2 separate regions of the Homo sapiens genome follow, and region 1 is linked to region 2. A link means that fine-mapping ties the variant in region 2 to the expression of a gene that starts in the linked region. Tissue or cell type: skeletal muscle. Region 2 holds a variant in brackets; the other region holds the start of a gene. All regions are shown on one strand. Distances are between the middles of the regions.

Region 1 (2,773 bases), 760 kb after region 2:
GTCCTCTAGATGCTTGGGGTGCACACTAAGGATATTTGAGTAGTGGGAGCTCCGACTCGAGGCAGGAGTGGGATGTCTTAGCATTCCGTCTCCCCCACCCCACCCATCTGCGTGGGACACAGTGACTCCTAGAAGGGTATCCCAGGATTTTAGCGGCCAGGTGTGAGCGCCCTCCACGCGGTCCTCCGAGACCTCAGGGCGCGTGGCAACTGGGCAGAAGCCGTCTCTGCAGCGCCGCTGCCCCGGGTGGAGCGGCAGCCCAGGCTGCAGCAGTGGGGTTGCCACGCCGAGTTTTCCGCATCGGCCGCCCGCAGGGCTCGCCTGCTTCTCCCCATTGTGTTCTCAGAGCTGTGGGACCCAGCCGCGCGCGCAGCCGCACCCGCGCCAACGCTGGAACCGAAGGCTCATGGAAGCGGGGCTGGCAAGATGGGGCAGGGAGAAGGAGCAAGAAGGGGCCCCAGAAGGGCACGGCGTTTCATCAATAATGCAGAGGCTCCTGGACCTCCCTGCAATACGTTTTCCAGCTAAACGCCACCAACTGGAGCGCTTCCTGGTTCGTCCCACTCGTGTGGTTTTTGTGTGTGAAAGATGGGACGCACCTTTTTCATTCATCTGTCTTCTCTCATTCTTCCTCCTTCCCTCCCTCATTTCCTCCCTCAAAGTCCCCGCTGGCTTAGCTTTAAGCTCTCGTCTTCACATCAGCACCATGTTTTCAAGCAAAATCCTGCAGGTTGGAAATGCAAGTGTCAAAAGTCCCCACTGCCTACATACCGCCAAGAGTTTACCAAAATCCACCTAGTAACGCTTATTTTCAAAGCCCCCACGCGCATCCATTCCTGGAGAATGCTTTCAAAGTTTGGAAGCTCCCTGCAGCCTGCCCGTGTCTATGCCTCAGTCAGCTCACATCACGAACAACGGTGCGGTCAGCGGCACTGAGATTAGGCTGCAAAGTTGCCCGGCCCCAGCCCACTACACCGCTGATGCTCGCCGCATCCCTAGAGCAAATTCCGCTGTGTGCCCCCAAGAAGCCAAAAGCGGCACGAAACCTACTCCAACAAGGGTTAGCCCAGCCACACACACAACAAACAAATTCCAAAACTTCTTTGTTAAGCAGCCGCAGCCTACCTGGAACGGACACTCTGCACAACTGGCAAGGAAGAAACAAACATCGCATCCCTGCAGGAAAACTTGTTGAATCCCTCCCGATCGCAAGGCTGCAATTTCCGATTTAGCCTGAAGGTTTTTGATTCTACCCCAAAACACCCTGGCGCATCAGCCACAATTTCTGGATAAACTGCAGAGTCCTCTCGGCAACCATTCTGCACTCCAACAACCACTAGTGTAAAACCCAGCGTGTCCCCTTTTACAAATCAAAAGCCAGCTGTCACTTCCCTTGCAACCATTTCCGAGACTTACCCTTCCATAAGACTGTTTTCAGCAATCTAGAGGCTCCGTAGTGCAGACGCAGCCCTGCAACTTTGCTGTGCACTGAGACCTTTCCGAGTTTAAACCAAGCGAAAGGTGACAGACTTTTAAACCTAAGAGTGGGGAAATAGGGAGAGAGTGAAGTCGGGTTTCTTCTCTGTATCAGCACCCTGGAAAAATTCAATCCTTCTTCAGTAGAGAATTCTTTCAAACCCGTTATCTGTATTACTATTAATGCGCAGAGCAGAAGGCATTGCATACAAATAGGTCCAAGTGTGCGCTTCTATTGGTGGCTGCGGAGGCCCCTGGGTCCTACTGCTCCGGTCTAAACTACACAGCAACACTAGGCACGCAGCTTTGGAGACGCCGAGGGGAAAATGGATTTAATTGATTCGTTACCTCTGGTATTGTAATGCCTGCTGCGATGTTTAACCGAGGGGGGAGGAAAAAAAAAAAAAAAAACCCTTACATTTAACTCCTGTCATGTGATCTATCATTCCATAGCTGCTTTTAATTGTCTGTGTGGAGTGGCTTTGATCATACAAAGGATTTTAAAAGAACATTTTCGAAGGAAAATTCACACAGACACTTTTGGCAGGAAAACCCTCTTTTGCTCTCTATTATGCATTATTCTCATATAAATCCAGGAAATTTTATATAATCAAATACTTCTGCACTTCACGTAGGTACACACAACACCCAATTGTATTTACAATTCATAGCTACTACAAATAAAATACCTTACATGGGTAGTAGATAGTAGAAGCTAAAATATGAGTCTACCAATTATAAAACACGGGTTATATTAGTCAAATGCTACAGAAAAAATTCCATCAATGACAATGGCGTCAGCATCATTTTTACTTCGCAAAATTAGAAATTCAAAAATATTTTCCTTGTAAATATTGACATAAAGATATAAATCAACATAAAGGTATTATAATGTCACAGTATGTCAAGCATTTACTATTAATTGCTACATTATCTTTTTACAGTTTCTCTCTTAGCAAGTTCATTAGTAATGCAAATTGGCATAACAAGGAGATTTAAAGTGAGGCCGACCTGTGGTGACTAGCAATTTGAAATATTGTAATAGTGTGCAAAATCACTTTAGTTCATCATCGGTAAAGCCAGTTATTTTAAGAATTAGAATATTAAATGCTGAATCTTAATATATATTAATTTGAAGTCTTAAACATGCTGTTTTCTTTGACCTTTAATTTTGTGGAGGAAAAGAGAAATCCTTATTTAAACTAAAATGACATAGACTTTCCACAAAATCCTAGATACGATATTTACTGATATTATAATTTAGGAAGTAACATAATTTTATTGTCTTTGATGTAAA
Region 2 (2,773 bases):
AGTATTAAATAAGATAAGGCATGTTAGCACTTTGTCAAGCAGATAACAACACTCTGTAACTTTTAGGCATTATCAGTATTACCATTATTATTAGAGATATTATTGATTCCTAGTGTTTCAGGTTCCGTGTATACAACTGGGCCTATACTACTACATCGATCATCATTTAATAAGTCACTTGGGTTTTTTCATCATGTAAACACATATATTTATTTATCTATATCTACATATAGACTCCTAAAAAGCAATGAGCTCTTAAGATTCAATGACCTATGACAGGAGAAAAGATCAAATACCACAATGAGTTTCTTTTTCTTCATCACCCTACTGAATTTAAATCAAAGCTGTTCTTAGGATGCTTGTGTTCAATCTGAATTCATGGAGATTAATAGCAATGATCTTGTCAGTGAATGCCCCTCCTATTTGCATAGATATCTGAATGAAAGCTTTACGTCTCCCCAGTTTTTCTTCTACAGATTTAGATTTTGGAAATATATTACTAAATTCATTCATTTTAGAAAGTGGTCGTTCTACCAGATTGCTAGGAAATTTTCACTTCTCTTCAGATACAAGGGAAATGAACAGATGAGTTTTATTTTCCACAGCCTGTACAAGATGGTTTACTTTACTCAGACAACTTGCTAATGGAACGGTCTGGATATACTGAAATTACTTCCCAAACCAAGCAACTAAAGAAGTTGAAAGCTACCCAGAGGTATGTGTAGTTAACACATACAAAGGTACTTTAACTCACTTTGTTGTATGAGCAAGGACAATTTTAGTGAAGTTTCAGAGTGACAGGCTTCCTTTTCAATAAAGCCTAAGTATACAAAATCAGCTTTAGAGCTATGCAACTAAAAAGCGGACATGTTCTTGTATAGGAAAGGAATTGCAGATAGATATATTTCTTTAGCCAAATTAAAAGTCCACCATTAGTGAAAAAAGAAAATCACGTGCTAAACAAGAAAATGTAACAGCAGGCAAGTTAAGTTGGAGATCAAATTATGAGACTTAGTGTATCTCATTAGCACTGTGTTGCCAAATGATATTGAAACAGACATTTGTGACCTGATTCATTCATTCTTTGGCTTCATGTTCTTTTCCTACTCTACCTGAAATTGCTAATAACATAAAAGGGCTTCAATCACGTTAGTGCAGAGAAGCTAAAATCTAGCCTTCTACCAAAACCCAGGAATGAACTTAGCAAGTTGGTGTTTTATATATATTTTTTTCATAATGTTTTATATATATTTATATATAAATATATATGTTTTTCATAATATATTATATATATGTTTTCATAATGTTGCATAAATTATGACCATACCTAACATGATCCAAAGACTTTTATGTCATATGAATACTATCTTGTTATGCTCATTGAAATTGTAAGTTAAATCAAGAGATAACATATACCTGAAATGGCTTTTCAAGAACTTACTAGTCATACATAACAATTTTTTTTGCTCTTTTACTTTCTATACAAACTGGGCATACGAACTGTGTTTCAAGCAGAACACTGCAAATAATCTTAGAGGAGAGCTTTGAGGACTCCACGCTCCTTTCATGGCTGACTGTGGACAAGCTGTCCCCAGCTCTCAGGTCCTGTACACATGAGTTGAATTTAGACATACTTTGAACTTGATACTTTC[T/G]GAAATCTAACCAAGAGCATCTTGAGAAAGTGTTTTAACTGTGAGCTGTTATTGCCAGAAGTAGCTTAAAAATGTTTTCTAGTAAACCTTGCTCTACTTAACTGAAAGACTAACATGATTTGAAAAATAGATCCCCAAAATACTGTATTATTAGGAACCAAAACCGACTATTTCCTATATGCTGCATACAAAGCAATCACTTGACACAAAAAGACTATATTCCCACTTAACACAGAACCACACTGCTCTGTTGACATTTGCTTGTATCCTTTGATGGTGCTTTTAACGCTTCATTTAAGTGTCAAACTAGGTGACAAGCATTAAGCCCAGATAGACTATTTAGTCTCATCTTGTGACCCTAGAACATTTTCTACAATTGCTTACCTTCTATCCACTTTCCCCTCAAAATAATATGAATTAATTAAACAAAATAAACAGAATATTATTTTCCGGCTCTAAGCCATGGACAGCTGTGAACGCCACAGAGGTACTTCTCTCTTTGAATAAAGTCAGAAAGATATGCACAGTCATGCTGTTCAAAATATTATTTTATGTGTGGAATAACACTGTCATAAGACATTTGGAAGCCAAGTAAAATCACAGAAGTAAGAGGATTTGTAGCAGCCTGTTTTGGCTGAAGGGAAATGAGGCTGAGCTCTCCCATGAAGCAAGCAACATGACACCTTTCGGTGTTAGAAATAGCCTTTTGGATGGTTAAAAAAGAGAGAGGAAAAAGCAAAGCAGTGGAGATCAAAGCTATCTCCCTGTACACTACAGATCATCTTTTTTTCTTCCTCTTCTTCAACAGCAAGATTGAAGGAAGGGGCTGAAAGTGGAGGGAGAAGGGGAAAGGAAATCATGCTAATCAAGAATTGTAAAGAATGGAGGTAGCCTTTTGATCTCCACAGGATGGCAACTTTATTGGCTATGCATAAGCAGTTTCCAACCAGCTGATCAACCAGGTATTAAGGCTCAACCCTTCCATGATCAGTAACCATGAAGTGAGTTATCTGTGAACAGCAGTCAAGCAGAAGGCTCATCTACTAAATGATCACCAGCCCATACTCAACCCAGAGCCTAAGAGCAACCACAGGGGAAATGATTGTCTCTCCACAGGCTCT

What was found. PIP is the estimated chance that this variant, and not a neighbour inherited with it, causes the effect.
Region 1: ROBO1 starts here. The variant in region 2 is fine-mapped to the expression of ROBO1 in skeletal muscle (GTEx, PIP above 0.99).

The regions. Positions count from the first base shown.
Region 1 is chr3:79,766,336-79,769,108 of GRCh38, forward strand. It overlaps ROBO1 (roundabout guidance receptor 1), which reads right to left and starts at 1,663. Exons shown (of 31, transcript NM_002941.4): 1 at 1,417-1,663.
Region 2 is chr3:79,010,418-79,013,190 of GRCh38, forward strand. The region is part of intron 3 of ROBO1 (roundabout guidance receptor 1); the gene reads right to left. Among named protein-coding and RNA genes, the nearest start is that of MIR3923, 500 kb to the right of the region's middle. The variant T/G (reference allele first, on the strand shown) is at 1,653.